2 separate regions of the Homo sapiens genome follow, and region 1 is linked to region 2. Evidence: fine-mapped expression QTL. Tissue or cell type: esophagus mucosa. Region 2 holds a variant in brackets; the other region holds the start of a gene. All regions are shown on one strand. Distances are between the middles of the regions.

Region 1 (8,182 bases), 37 kb before region 2:
GAAAGGAAAGTAAGAAGAAATGGAGAAAGGAAAGGGAATGGAAGGGAAGAGAAAATAAGGGAAGGGAAGGAAGGAAAGGGAAAGGAAGAGATGAAATTAAGAGATGTTTAAAAGATGGGATTCCAAGGGCTCAGTGACTGATAGGATGTGGGCAGTGGGAAACTTGAGAATGATCTCGATTGAAAGTGTGAAAGAAGGCCAAAGACAAGCTAGCATGGATTATAGAAGGCAGTGGAGCAGAGAAGGAGAAAATGGCTGTGGGGCAAAGAAGCACATGTGTTGTATGGAGGGTAAAAAGACCTGGGAGAGAGGTGTGCAGGTGTTTGGGATGAATGCTATCTCCATCATGGGTGGATAAACTGCCCCAGAACCTGTTTTGTGCAGTCACATGAGTGTGGACAGCTGTAAGAGCTTATCTTGGGTACAGGCAGGGCACAGTCACACTGTGTGTGCATGGCTCTCTTCCCCCTCTCTGTCACGCTTTCTAAAGACTCTCATAAGAACCCACTGTTGGCAGAGCCACATTCAGAAGTCAAACTTGGTAATTGATACCGTAATCCCCTGGATTCCCTCATTAGCAGCTGCTAATGGCTGGTGTGTTAACCATTCAATTAGGGCTCTAATAGGCCCATTATAAACTGCATCCATTCGAAGGGAACAGAAGAGCTGGGAGAGAAGACTGAAGCTGGCAGTGAAGATCCCTGACAACACCAGAGGCCTCCCACTGTCTCTGACTGGGGTGCCCTAGGTCTGGATTAAGCCAGAAGGCCTCTCCAGAAGGCCAGCCCAATGGCCAGATATTGGACTTCACAGAGAAAACAGTGGGCCTGGGATGGCCTCCAGCCAAAAATCTGGAGACTTTCTCTGCTGCAAAAAGAGCCTCCCTAGGTCTGGACATCCTCTGGTGATTTACCCTCTCCCAAACCTGTACCTGTAAATTCTGCTTTTACCTCTACTCTACCCAGCAACCCAAACTCAAAGGAATATTCAGAGCATCTGATTCAGAGAGATTGCCAGTGCAGCCACCTCCTCCAGCATCTGCCCTAGAGTCCTGGCCCATTTCCATCTCTCCAGCACGTTTTCCCTCCAAGATATTCTTTTTGGAGAAGAGAAAGTTTGAGATATGGACCTTGCAGAGTTATTTAGTCGGGTGAGGGTGTTGCCAATGCTGACCTTACACAATTCAAGAGACCCTGGGGAAAGTTCTACATGTGGCCCCCTTCTTGTGGTTTATGTCTCTATCTCCAGAGAGATCTGACTTATTAGAAACAAATTCCTCATCAGCAAAACTGGGATATCACTGGTAGCAGGTATCCCTCACTAGAGGCCAGCATATATTTTCCAGGACTCACTGGAATAGAAGTAATTGCAAAGATTCTTAACCAGCCCCTTAGTTGGTCAGAGGAAATGCAGGGAGGTGGGATTTACTCAAAAAATTGGTTCTGCATCAACCTCAAGACCACCAGGCTGCTCTATGTGTCACGTTATTTCTTTTATCCTTTATTGTTTTAATTCTCACTTCTGAAAAAATAATCAGATAACGTATATGCAAATATTCCATAAAGCATAAAATATCCTCTCTCTTATCTACCTGCCTTTTCAGGTCCTGCCCCCAGAAACCTCCCACAAGCCTTGGAGCCTCCAGTCTCACATACAGACCTTGATCTGACCTTGGGATCCACATTGCAAAGCCAAACCCATTTTCACACACACACACACACACACACACACACACACACACACACACACACCAAAAAAACAGAAACCAGGGAACTTAACCATACCACTTGCTGCTCTCCAACATCTTTTCAAGCCCTGCCTGTCTTCTTACCTCTGTTGTCTTCTATAGCTAGTGGGAGGCAGCTTCTCTGGGGTACTCTGTCAGACTCTGTCAGCATGATGCCTTAACTAGGCAATTTCTTATGCTTCCTAGGCCTAGATAACATAGCCAGCAATCCTACCTGCTGGGCCAGGGTCAGGAAACAAACTGAAGACACTGTGGAAGGCTTTTCTGAGATCACCTAGAAGCCAGGGCAAAGAATCAACAGAGAAACCAGCTGACTCTAGTATTGACTGTGAGTAGCAGAAAGAACACCAAACTAAGAGCTCCAACTAGTTCTGCTAGTTAGCTTTGGTTAAATCCTGTCTCCCCTCTGGAGTCATCTACAAAGGGAGAAGATTATTCTGATCGTCGTTTTGTGAGTGCCACCAGAGGAACAGAGAACTCCCCGCTGCCGCCCCACCTTTTCTGATAGCCCCAGGATTTCAGGCCTGCCTCCTGCCTTCCTATGTGTGGACAGAAATAGGCTGTAGGGAGGGCTAAGGCTGGGAACACACCCTACAGAGTCTAATACCTGCTTTGCCTCACAAACCATGTTAAATTAGAAATAATGCATAATCAGGCTGTTTTATCCTACCCAGAAGCTAGCAGAAAGAATTTGGCAAAAGCTGTTAGGAGGTCATAGGAGAGAACCATGTTACCATTGTTCTCAGAGGCCTCAAGAGAAGGTGGTGTGTTCTAGAGTTAGTTGTAACTATGCAAATGTGGTAGGCAGATTTCTAAGCAGGCCCCCATGCCGTTAACCCTATGATGTCATTCCTATGATTATGCTATACTGCATGTCAAAAGGGATTTGCAGGTGTAATTAAGGTTACTAATCAGTTGACTTTGCAATAGGGAGATTGTCCAGATGGGTGTAACCTAACAAGCTATAGAGCTTTCTTTAGCTAGTGGCAGAAGGGGAAGTGAGAGATAAATAAAATATGAGAGGGATTTGATGAGAAAGAGGTTCTCTATTGGTAGCATGGAGGGAGTTATAGGGAATGACCTCAAGAGAGCAGTGTCCAGAAGCCAGGAGTGACCAAGAGTCAATAACCAGCAAAAATCAGGAATTGCAGTCCTTCAACCACAAGGAACTGAACTGAACTCTGCTAACAACTTGAATAAGCTTGGAAGTGGATTCTTCCCGGAGCCTCCAGACTATAACCTAGCTCAGCCAACACCTTGATTTCAGCCCTGTGAGACACTGAGCAAAGAACCCAGCATGAGCCCACCCAGACTACAGACATCTGAGATCATAATAAGTAGGTGTTGTTTTAGCCATGATGTTTGTGGTAATTGTTAGGCTCCCTAAGTGTGGCTGCACTATCGCCAGGCCATTATGAACTCTGTGACCAACATGTACACCTCCAGAAGTGAACTCTGTGACTAGCACGTATACCTCCAGATAGCTCCCTGGAACAAAGAGGCCCAAAGCAACAAAAGAATGACCGCAAAGAAGAAAAACAGCAAGTTCCTGTTCCAGCCGGTTAACCATCCCTCCAAATCTATAACGACCAACCCCCAGCTGTAACCTTCTGTAACTTTCCACTTGCTACCCCAGCCTATAAAACCCCCTCTTCCTCATTCCTCAATGCTGACTCTCTTTTCGGACTCAGCCGGCTCACACCCAAGTGAATAAACAAGCCTTGTTGCTCACACTTAGCCTGCTTGGGTTGTCTTCTCAATTAAACACGTGCTTAACAGTTATTTGTTACACAGAAATCAAAATGTTAATATAACAAGTAACTCTGACCCTTCTGCCATTCTGCCTTTGCTGGGCATCTTGAATCTGCAGCTGGTTCAAGGGCTGGTATCTCAAAAGAGGAAATCCAGTTGTGATGGTTAATCTTTTGTGTCAACTTGACTGGGCTAAGGGAAGCCCAGGTACCTGGTAAAACATTATTTCTAGGTGTGGCTGTGAGGGTGTTTCCAAAAGAGATTAGCATTTGAATCAATGTGCTTAGTAAAGAGATCATCCTCACCAATGTGGGTGGGCCTCATTCAATCCATTGCAGACTTGAATAGAACTAAAAGGAAGAGGAAGGGCAAATTTGTTGGCTGCTTGAGCTGGGATATTCATCTTTCTCCTGATCTTGGACATCAGAACTCCTGATTCTCAAGCCTTTGGGTTTGGACTGGAGGCACCAGCTTTCCTGGGCCTCCAGCTTGCAGATGGCATATCATGGAACTTCTCAGCCTCCAAATTCATGTGAGCCAATCCTTTATTATTTGTATAATTATGGTATATTCATTGTATTATATCTATCTAATCTCCTATTGGTTCTGTTTCTCTACAGAACTCTAATACACCAGTACAATGGAAAGATTCCTAAATTCAAAAGCCAGAAGGCTGGGTTCCTGTTCCCACCCTGCCTTTTACCTTCTGTGTGTTCCTGATGAAGACACTTCATGCTCCACTATTTACTTACCTCTGAAACGAAGGGCTGACCCAGATCAGTTGTTCTCTGACCTGCTTGGAGGGACTCAGAGGCTGTGGAGGTGAGTGGGAAACAGGCCAGGTTCCAGGCCCACACTTCAAAGAGACAAGGTCTGCTTTGGACTGTTTTACACACAGGGCTTCTGAGTTTTAGATTTCATTAGAAGTGTTTCTTCTGCCAAATGAAATTTGAAAACCACTGAGCTGGGTGATTATTAGGACCCATTCCAGCTGTCATATTCTTCCAGCATGAAGATCAAGTTCAGCAGTGCAGCAGCTGGAGCTGTGGAAAGAGGTGGTATGAGTTTGGGCTTGAGTTAGTGGACATGGTAGCCAAATCAGAGATCCCTCTCTCATTCAAGTCATCTGTTGCTACCTGTTTGCTCTGGAGGTCTGAACTTCTGGGAGATAAATGTTTAAACTGACAGACTTCAGTTCAAATAATGACTCCACATTCGTATCCTGATATTGGGTAAATAAATAAATCTCTTAAATTCCCAGAGCTGCAGGTTCTTAGCCTATAAAATGATGACATCACCTACTTTGCCCAGTTATTGTATATACTAGTTAACATGGTCTAAACTGTGCCAATTGGAAGACCCAAAATGCAATGCCTTGAGAAGAGTAAAAGGTTTTTTCTCTTTCATGTAAATAGTCTAGAACAGGCCAGGTGGTGGGCCTTCTACTCCAAGCATCCTTCAAGGAACCCAGGAGATGCTAGTTCTATTATTTTCAGCACGTTGCTCACAAGGTTACTGCAAGGTTTGTATTCCAGCCAAGCAGGAAGGTGGGGCGGAGGTGGGGTGGTATGGAGGAGCCTATGAGCCAAGTTTCATGGTCAGGTCTGAGAGTGGCTCACATCACTTCCACTCACATTCTGTTGGTGAGAGCTTAGCCATACAACCACACTGAGTTCCAAAAGAAGCCAGAAACTAGTCCCTGGCTGGATAATTCCCTCCCAGTTAAAATTCTATTGCTTTGGGTGCGCTGAAAAGTCTAGGGTGGTTTCCACCACATTACACATAGAAAAGTGCTTAACACCTAGGAGCCTCCGGCTCAGCATCTCCACATAGGCCCAGCTCTGCTGATTAAGTGTGTTTCCATGTGGGCATATGCGGAGGTGGCCAGCACTATTCCATATCCTCATTTCAGGATTTTTCACAGCTGCTTTCAATCTGCTTCTCCTAAATGACTCTCTTTGGCTACACCTCGTTTTCCTAGAGTGAATATTTCCATCAGCTGATGCCCTTCTCAGGCCTCAATCTCCCCTGGTTTGCAGACTGTGGCCCTCCTTGGCCTCTGTGGAATCTGGCCATTTGAATCCTGTCAGCCCTGTTCTCCATCACCAAAGGACTCCGGAGGAACTGTGCCAAGCAGGCTGTCAGCCACGGGCAAGCTTTCTGAAAAAGACGTGCCAACTGCAGCCACAGAAAGTCCATTCCCTTGAATAACTTTGCTAATATTTGAAAATTAGTTCCCTTGCTCCTGATCATGCTACTGGGTATTTGGATATAAGAGCAAGGATGAGGGCAATAGAAAATTAAAATCATGTTCTACTCATATAAACTGCACAGATATGGAAGGGTAGGTCCTATTACCTATAATCCTGGGATTTTTAGACTCTCACTTTCATTGGACCAGAGTTGCCTTAGGGACAGTAAAAACACAAAATGCTGGGTATTGTTTTCATCAAGCAACTACTGATAGTGCACATTTAAATCAAAATTCTTCTAATCCCAAACTCAGTAAACAGATGCTGTGAGCTTAGTTCTGCCCCTCTGGCTTCAGATTTTACCCCACTGGATGTGCCCAATTCTGAGATGACAAGACGCTTCCAGCTTCCACATGGTTGCAATTTGGCTGTGGAACTGGCATGAAAGCACGTCACTGTGTCAGCACCTGGGCCACCAGATGAATAACCTATGAACAACAGCTTTGGACTAAAATATGAAGGGGTTGTTTTCCTTCAATCTCCCCCTACCTTCCTCAGAACCTGCTACAAGGAAAGATTTATAGACTCGAAAGCGTCAATGACTGATTAGACCCATATGATTGCTCCTGCTGTTTCTGATATTTTAAAAAATTGTCTTATAAAGAGATAAAAATAAATAATCAATGGAAAAACTTTTGGCATGGGAGAGACATTTAGGGAAAGAAGTCATTTCAGCCTCCCCCAACACACACATGCACACACACATACAGCCTATATCACACAATGGAGGTGAGGACCCACTCAATCTAGGCTCAGGACTGGCTCCATGGGACAGATGGGTGGGACAAGTCATCCTGCTGCAGTCAGGTAGCAGAGAGCACCGAGGAGACTAAGATGACAGAGACAAAATAACTAGAGAAAAGATACAGGAGCTAGGGGGAGAGGGTTGAGGTTTGACGAAGCTCTCTCTTCCCAGTAGGGGAGAGTTGGAAGCCACAGATGTAGTTACAGCCCCTTGTTTTCCAGATGAGGAAACAGGTGCTGTGATGTTAAGAGCCCCCAGTAGTGGTCCATGTAGCCAGTGGCCTATGTCAGCTGGGCTCTTACTCTCATGGGAGAGGTGCCACCTTCAAATGTCTGAGATCCACTGACCTTCTTTGAACAATAGCAGCTGAAGTAAGAAAACACCATGAAAAGCCCATGCCTCTTTAGCGCCATTTTCATATTGATGTTCCGTCTTCCTCCATGCAGTCAAAGGGCAACATTTTCTCTGCAACTTCCCAATTTTGCCTGATGCAAATAAAATGTGCTGCTCTTGTCCTTCTCTCCTTTTCCCCTTAGTATTCTTGATTTTCCCCTAGATACTCAAGTAATGCCCAGGTCTCAGGAATGTATAATCTCTTGCTTATCTCTAGCAACAGATTTGGGAATGAGGAATCGTTCCCTGGAAGAGTCAGAGCGCTCGTAGACACATTCTGCTGGATTGCACGAGCTCCTCCCCTGGGAAATCCACTAAGACTAGAGGAAAGAATTGCTTGGAGGATTCAGAGGCTGAAGAGTGGACAGACGGCTTTAATTGAGAAAAAGAAGCAGAAAATTGAGGAAGATGTGAGGCATCAATGCCAGCAGACGACATGTGACAGGTGCTAGCCACATGGATCACACTAAATTTCTGTCATTTATATAGATAAAAAAGAATTTCCAAAGAGCTCCTCCATAATTCAGCATTAACCAGCTTTAAATCATCACCTTTCTTTACCTTTTCAAAGCACTTTTATCTAGCTAGCTTTCACTTTCAGAGTGGCCAATTCAGGTGAGGATTCTCAATCCTGTTCTGCAGCTGAGGAACTCATGCTCAAAAGGGCTAAGAGTTTATTCTCTTACATCCAAACACCTTGCTTTTCCAAATCTTGTGCTCACTTTACCTACACATTTTGATTTTTCCAGGCTGATGACAAGTTAGACATGCAGACTCCTCAGGCTCATTCATAATCTGTATAGACATTACAGGTCATGCAAATTTAAGAAAAGGCTAAAAGGTGCCCGTTTGCACCCAACATGTTGGATAATGCCCCGGTAAAGTGGAAAATCAGTTTCCACAGCCTCGCTCTGTAGGTTTCCTTGGAATTGTAAAAGCATAGGACTCTGCCTCATATTTATTTCTATACGGCAATGAGGATATAAAGGAGCAGACCGAAAAGAGAAAGGAATTTTAAAAGCCATGGAAAGCTGCCCTAAATGTGGTTGGATATAGAGAGGAGAGTGCTGAAGGCAAACAGCTGTGCCCTCTTTGCCTTTTTGCTGAGGAAGGGGATTTAAGCCAAAAGAACACACGTAAACGTGGATTTCTTAAAGTTCTCACTGTAATTATGTAGCCTTGGGAGATGAGGAATTGTAAAGTAGATGCTGGCTTAAACAAATGATAAATCCTTGAGGTGATGGGCACCCCATTTTCCCTGATGTGATTATTACACATAGCATTCCTGTATCA
Region 2 (8,182 bases):
TAGCTTGGAGGAGGAAGAGGATGAGTTATTTAGGAATAGTTTAAGTTTCCAATATGTGATAGATTGTATTACAACCAAATTATTTGCTGTTTCTCACCCAGGATGTCCACCAGGTTTGGTCATGTGCCTTTGTTTTGGCTAATGAAACGTGAGCGAACATGGGGGAAGTTTCAACAGCTGGCTTATGCTTTGCCAAGATCTCTCTTTTCTTTACTCTGAGGTTTTCAGTGTTCCACCCAGAGGCTTCTCTGTTGGCTTGGGCCCTAGAGTGGAGATGGTTTGGAGCATATCATCGTCAATCTGTGGTGAGCAAGTAGAATGAGTAAGAAAGAAACCTTTGCTACTGTAAGCCACTGAGATTTGGGGAGGGTTTGCCACCACAACATAACCTAGCCCATTCTGACTGAGTCAAGATGCCTGTGGGGACATTATATTTACATGAAGTTTACCAATAGATCATTTTTTAAAGGATTAGCCATCTTTCTCTACTCCTATCTGAAAACTTCTGGAGTAACTATTCATAGCTCTATGTCTTGAGAAAAGTCATGTGTCCATTTTTACAGCCGAGATGGGGCTATAAAACTGTGTCCTGCTCTCAGTATAGGATCTCCACAGTGTAGGGTGGGTGACCACAGTGATAAGGGGCCTCACAGGTGTATAGGAAGGCACAGTGTCAGAGTAGGGATGTGCATAGTCAACTTTTAAGAAATGGTGGGTGACAGAGCTCAGTTAAAAGGATCAGCAGATATGGATTTTATCTCAGTATGGACCTTGCCGATGAAGAAGGATTATTGACCCAAGAATCGGGAGAGAAAACCGAAGAGAGGGTTCAAAGAAGGTCTGAAGTTGAGAAGGGAGACTAGCAAGCCCCTGGAGGCTGCAGAGAAGTCTGAGACTGGAGAAAGGAGGCTCGGACAGAATTCTGCTTCTGTGTGTCCCAGGGTCTGGGGGTGGCACTGTGGCTCTGTGGGCCACTCCACATGGCTATGTGCTGTCATGCACATGTACCCATGAGATTTCCCATCTGGGGGGACATGTGAGTCTCTGTGTGTGAATATCATGTTTGTCTTCTCTGAGCCTTTTGGAGAAACAGAAATTCATGAGATTCTGTTACATGAGAGTAGTGTGGCTCTGCCCCACCTTGGTTGTGAGTATACTATTGTGTGTGATAATGAGGACTATCTGATCCTTACAAAATAAGAGGGAAAGAGCAACAGGAGACACCACTCTTTCCCCCAGAAAGGCTGACAGTTTGCTTTCGACTGGAGAAAAATAAGAAATCTCCCAGGAAGCAAATGTCATGAGGGGAAAGGACAATGACGAGAAAATGAGACACAAGGGAAGGGGAAAGAAGGTGAACTTGATAAAAAGTCTGCAAGGGAATATAAGTGAGAATTCTACTAGTGAAGATGGAAGAGCATTTTGAGAAAAGGAGACAATTTTAGATGAACCAAAACCAAATAATATCAAAGGCATTTCTCTACATTCTTGTGCAGCCAATACCATAACATTCTGCTTCATACATACATTCATTCATTCACAAGCATTATTGAGAACACATGTGTGCCAAGCATGTGCTAAGTACCAGGGACATAAAGATGAATAAGATCCTGCTTTAGTCCATTTGGGTTGCTATAACAAAATACCTTAGAATGGGTAATTTATAAACAACAGAAATGTACTTCTTGCAGTTCTGGAGGCTGGGAAGTCCAAGATCAAGATGCCAACAGATTTGATGGGAGCCCACTCTGCTTCATAGATGGTGCTTTCTTGCTGTGCCCTCACAAAATGGAAAGGGTAAGAAAGCTCCCTCAGGCCTCCTTTATAAGGGCACCAATCCCATTCATCTGGTATTCACCGTCATGACCTAATCACCCCCCAAAGACCCCCCCTCTTAATGACATTACATTGGGAATTAGGTTTCAGCATATGAACTTTGGGGAAGCACAAACATTTGGACCATAGCAGATCACCCCTGACCCAAAATGTTCAGTCTATGGTGCCTTATAAATTTATTACGTGCCATTTTTGCTAAAATATTAGCTCCTTAAAGACTAGGACTGTGTTTTCTCAATGCCTAGCACATAGTACATCCTCAACAAATATTAATTGAAAGAACAAATGAAGGAATGGATGTCCAAGGGGAGAGATACACTAAAAAACAATGACCCTCCAGTATGGTAAGTGCTCTAGCAACATAAATTGCTATGTGAAGCTTGAAAAGGGGATTCCTAGAAAATGAAAAGCCTGCCTCTAAGAGCTCAAGCTGTGTGATGATGGGGAAGAGGATGTGGGTCCCTCTGAGGACTTCAGCAAAGTGACGGAAAAGGAGACTTGAAGAATGAATAGGAATCTCACAGCACAGCGGGGTAAGCCAAGCTCAAGCTCTGAAGACTCAAGCAGCTTCATCCAAATGGGGAGCAGCAAGAACTCCACATCTAGGATGAAGTTCCCGTTGGGGTTGTCTAATGAAGAGAAGACAATAGAGGCAATAGAGGACCATTAAATGCTTTTAAAAAAAAAAAAAGAGGAACATTATTAGAATTGCATTTTCTACAAAAGCATTCTGCTACCAGCATGGCCGACAGATTTCAGTTGGGGCAGTGCTGAGACAGAGGAACAAATAGGAGACTATTGTGGGCAGTGTCTGTGGGAATGGCCAGGAAAATATGCATATGGGAGAGACTTAGAAGCTGGAATCAAGGATCTGACAGCCCATTGGTACAATCTAAAGTGGTTATAATAGCACTCAAAAATCTGGCTTGAGTGGGCGGTACTACACAAGTGACTTTTTGGGAAGGAGGACAGTCAGAGTGACAGGAGGAAGCTGTCTTCCTACCAGCATTCTGAATTCTAAAGGGATGAGAGAAGATCAAGCAACCATGCAGTGACCAACAGGCCATGGCTGAAACTACCTATGTGATGCCATCTGCGTTTATTACTGACTGGAGCTAAGTTGTGCTAAGATTGGAAGGAGAAAATGAAGAGCCTGCCTCTGACAGCTTGAGCTGTGTGATGGTGGAAGAGAGAGTGTAGGTTCCTTTAAGGCCCATGTACAGGGTGAATGGGATGACCACTGCCTTTCCAATGACAGCCAGGCCCAGAGGGAGACTTCTGGCTCCAGGAGGGCTGAGATCACGCCAGGCTTGTTCTCCAGGGTATCCCCAGGGAAGGCAGTGTCTGGCACATGTTGGAAATAAATGTTTGTTTAATACATAGAGGGAGATCAAAGTATGATTCAGATGGGGGTGGACATATATGGAGAGAACTTTATTTTCCACTTTTAAGACTCTATTCCTGGTGATGGAGGTGTGGGGAGAGGGTGGGGGAATTTAAATTTATCGACTGACAGTAATTCAGCATCCTTTGGTTTAAAAGTCTCTTTTAGTTAAATTTCATCCCTTTAGGGTAAAGATCATCTGACAGTCAGTATTTCTTCCTCCTTCCCCTTTTCCGTTCCTATTCCCAAGGTGGGTAGGGGGGACCTAAGTTTTCAAATATTTAAAAAAGCACTGTGATGTTAGTCGCCAGAGGGTGAGGCCACACTCCCAGTCCATACCTTGTCCTCTGACTCTGGCTAGAGGCATTGCTAGAGTCCACAGATGATGAACTCCACATTCTCTCCCTGGGAAACTAACACACCCTTCCTTTGAGTTGTCTACCTATCCTATTAGTCATACTCTCTGTCAGGGGTTATGGGAACTATCAAGTCCCG[G/T]GCATGTCACACACAAATCATGCCTGCCAAAGAACTACCATACCCAGCTCCCCAATCCCAGTGCTGGCTCCACCCTTTCTCTTGTCATGCATGCCCCTTACTCATTATGGGCTCCTCTGATAGGCTGGCAGCCTCTGTGGGCTGGGGAAGCAGGGCTCCACCCACAAGAGTCCCAGAGGCCTGCACATCTATCTTGGTGTGTTTACCACACACTGAATTCCAAGGTTGACCCTGGTGGTGGCAGGAACATGGGAACATGAAAGTTGTAATTGACCTATTTTCCTAGCTCCTCCTCTCTAAACCAGACACTCATGATTTTTACCTTTGTCTAGAAGGCATCTCAACCTACGAGTCTTGCAATTCACTCTGTTTTAACTCACCTCTTCATGTGGGAAACCCATGTAGAGAATTGAACTGTAATCTCCACAGACTATTGATCTTTTAACTAGGAACCCCTGGATGTGTAAGCCTCAACCTGCAGAAACAAGTATCTCTGGTAGGATTTCATGTTCTTCCTGTTAGACGGAATGAGAAGAACTTTTGAGTTGTCAGCTCCTCTCAAACTCGCTTGACCTATATAAATGTGTTAAGAGCCACAAACTTAACTGCCATGGTCCCACTTAGCTTAACCTTTGGTAAGTGCCATGGTGCTTAGAGAATTTTTTTTTTATTTCGCTGTAAAGCATGGGCCAGCAAACTAAGGCTTATAAGACCAAATCTAGCCCAAGGCCTGTTCTTTTTTTTTTTTTTTTTTGGGACAGAGTCTTGCTCTGTTGCCCAGGCTAGAGTGCAGTGGCACGATCTCGGCTCACTGCAAGCTCCGCCTCCTGGGTTCACGCCATTCTCCTACCTCAGCCACCCGAGTAGCTGGGACTACAGGCACCCGCCACCATGCCCGGGTAATTTTTTGTATTTTTAGTAGAGACGGGTTTTCACTGTGTTCGCCAGGATGGTCTCGATCTCCTGACCTCGTGATCCATCCGTCTCGGCCTCCCAAAGTGCTGGGATTACAGGCGTGAGCCACCGCGCCAGGCCCCAAGGCCTGTTCTGGATGATCCTTGAGCTAAGAATGGTTTTCACATTTTCAATAGATCAGAAGAAGATAAGGTGCTAGAGAAGGAAATAAGAGGAAGAGAAGGAGAAAGAAGAAGAAAAGAAGGAGGAGGAATGCACACGGAGGCCGTATGTGGTTGACAAAGCCTAAAAAATTTACTATCTTACTCTTTTCAGAAAAAGTAAAGAAGGAGCTATTGTATCAAATTCATAAATTAGTTTGGGATGAGAGTCTCTATTATCCCCAAGGGCTCATTCAAAGCAAATCAATTTAACAAAATTATCCTTCTTCAGAAGAAATTGAAACCCTCATTTTCTTCTAAGATCCTGAGAGCTCATCAAGTTAGGAAGTTAACATTGCTTTTGTTGCAACAGGTAGGATTTTGTAGGTGACCCCTCAGTCACAGGTTGCTGTTCTCCAATGATCTAATGTCCATTTAGTATCTTTACTCTCTGACCATAAGGAATACGAAAAGGAAGCCACTCAGGAGTTAGCCCAAGCAGCCCGGCCAAGCCTGTTGGATGAAAGATGGGGGATACTGCCCCAGGGACACATGCCCCCATTCTCAGGTTGCAGACTCCCAGCGCCCTCGGACCCAGCTTGGGAAAACTGGTTGGAAGAAAATCACTACACACATCTCTTTGTGCACCGCCTTGATCCTCTTACCACCCTAAACAGTTCCCATGCACTTCAGATTGCCACTTCAGATGCCATGATTAGCCAACCCCTGAGAGGTGCACAGCAGACCTGTGTGCAGACAGACAAGCTACTTACACCGGTGAAGCCTGCAGCCCCTGGTAGCAGCAAAAGATGACCATAAATTGCCCGATCTTTCAGTCTAGGGTAGCCCCAGATTTCTCCTCTCAGAGAAAAGGCCATGCGTTATTTGTCCCATGTATGCCAACCCCACCACAAACATAACCAAAGGGAGACAGCTTGGCTCCTGTGCCTCACTTCAGGTTTACACTCTGCACACAGCAGAGTGATGCTGTTCTTTCTCCCAAGACACAGGTTTTTGTCAGTCTTATTGCGTACATACCCATGGTCATGCACTAATCTTTTTGTCTACAGCAGCACAACAAAGATAGAAATCACTGCCAGATGCTGGAACATGAAGGACAATGATGAATGAGTAGTATACCAAATTATAGCCCGTTTGTTACCCATCTTGTTCTTGTGACTTTTGTGGCCACTGTAGATATGATCTAGCAGTCATCCAGTGACTTAGCTGTCTTCTAAATTTGCAGCTATATTATTTGATTTTGTGGCCTTTACTCCAGGCCCAGAAACTTGGCATTGGCATTGCTACTTTGGAAATCAGAGTATCTCATTCCAGGAGCGTTTCTAAGGGTGTCTAGTCACACAGAGCCAGGGTCCTGTATTCAGATTTCACCACTGACTTTCCTCAATGTTTGGAGTATAATCTGGGAGCCTTGGTGCTCTTCTGGGGCTGTGCTCTGCTCATCACTTGGAAGGGTTGTGTTGCTTGCCCACCTTTTCCCTGCCTCTCCCTTAGACTTGAACACAAGGGGCTGGACTGGTTGTATTCCCAAAATTCATCAGTGAGGCTCAAAATACAGTTACTTGAGCTTGTGTCTCCTAGCAGGACTGGGTAAGTCATCAGGGTGTCTCTCTCTTTTTTTGGAGACGGAGTCTCGCTCTGTCGCCCAGGCTGGAGTGCAGTGGCGTGATCTCAGCTCACTGCCAGCTCCGCCTCCCAGGTTCACGCCATTCTCCTGCCTCAGCCTCCCAAGTAGCTGAGACTACAGGCCCCTGCCACCATGCCCTGCTAATTTTTTGTATTTTTAGTAGAGACGGGGTTTTACCGTGTTAGCCAGGATGTTCTCAATCTCCTGATCTCGTGATCCGCCCACCTCGGCCTCCCAAAGTGCTGGCAAGGTGTCTTTCTAACTATTTTAGAAGAGCACCATAGGTATGGAGCTCAGATCCTGAAGCCAAGTTTAAAAATATGAAAGGTGTATAGACTTTTACGGTCACAGGTGTGGGGGGATTCTTCTTTTAGGAAAAAGTCTTTGTCCTTTCACTTATTAACTTACCCAACAGGCATCTACTGAGAGTCTATTCCATGCCAGGCATTGTGCAAGGCCCTTGGAATAGAGAGATGCAAACAGTATATCTTGTCCTCCAGGAGCTCACAGACCAGTGTGAAACCCCAAAAGATGAGGACTTAACTGGAGACTCTTACAACACTGCTAGTTTTAGGGATATTCACAGAAATTCCAATTCTTCTCTCTTTCCCAACACATGGTAGAATTATACTTCCCTGCTCTCTTGAAAGTTAGACATGACCATGGGACTTGCTTTAGGCAATGAAATGTGAGTGGGAGTGTAGTAAATGACTTACAGGTGGAAGTCTTTAAGAAACAGCATGCGGGGCCAGGCACAGTGGCTCATGCCTGTAATCCCAGCACTCTGGGAGGCCAAGGCGAGCAGATCACAAGGTCAGGAGATCGAGACCATCCTGGCTAACATGGCGAAACCCCATCTCTACTAAAAATACAGAAAAAATTAGCTGGTCGTGGTGGTGAGCGCCTTTATTCCCAGCTACTCAGGAGGCTGAGGCAGGAGAATGGCGTGAACCCGGGAGGCAGAGCTTGCAGTAAGCTGAGATGGTGCCACTGCACTCCAGCCTGGGTGACAGAGCCAGACTCCATCTCAAAAAAAAAAAAAAAAAAAGAAACAACATGTGTTACCATATCCCATTTTTCTCTCTTTGGGAATTTTGGAAGAATGTGTAGAGGTGAAGCATCTATCAGCCTCAGTCCCTGAGTGACTATAATGAGCGTAACTCTGACCAGCCCACATGAGATAAACTTCTGCTGTGTTAACCCACTGATATCTGGGGAGTTGTTTGTTACCACAGCATAACCTAGCCTATTTTGACTGATACACACTGACTCCAGAGAATGAGGTTTTCCAGCCTTCGGTGATCAAAGAAGAACCTTTTGCATGTCAGAACCACCCTGTTATTTGAGGAACACCTATACACACGGAATGGGGGGCCTCTTGGAGCTGTCCGGACAGCATCATGATAGCAGCCATGAGTCACAAAAGGTCTTTCCATCTACCTTCTTCTCTGCTCACCACTTGTGGGCTTCCTCACAAAGTTGCTGCAAGTCAATTAAAAAATCTCCCAGCTTATGGCATCTCCTGAGAGAGATGCCCAGAAATTCAGCATTTCCTGCAGCCTGTGCTTCCCTTTATCACGGCCCTTTTCACATTGTTTATTTTTCTATCTCACTAGACTGTGAGCCCAGGTGATGACCTGGCATGATACTCAAATCAGAACAGATAACCAATTCCTACTTTTCTAAATGAACACATGTTGAGTGAATAAGTGAACCCCTCTGCTGCTACCTTTGTACACTATATCTTTGACATGGGAGACAGTA

Evidence for each region. PIP is the estimated chance that this variant, and not a neighbour inherited with it, causes the effect.
Region 1: it holds the start of LINC01559, and the variant in region 2 is fine-mapped to the expression of LINC01559 in esophagus mucosa (GTEx, PIP above 0.99).

Annotation. Positions count from the first base shown.
Region 1 is chr12:13,372,363-13,380,544 of GRCh38, reverse strand. LINC01559 (long intergenic non-protein coding RNA 1559) reads left to right here and starts at 3,800. Exons shown (of 3, transcript NR_036555.1): 1 at 3,800-4,031; 2 at 4,120-4,321; 3 at 7,107-8,182. RefSeq lists an enhancer at 3,998-5,197.
Region 2 is chr12:13,335,304-13,343,485 of GRCh38, reverse strand. No RefSeq gene overlaps it. Among named protein-coding and RNA genes, the nearest start is that of LINC01559, 37 kb to the left of the region's middle. RefSeq lists an enhancer at 2,998-4,197. The variant G/T (reference allele first, on the strand shown) is at 3,716.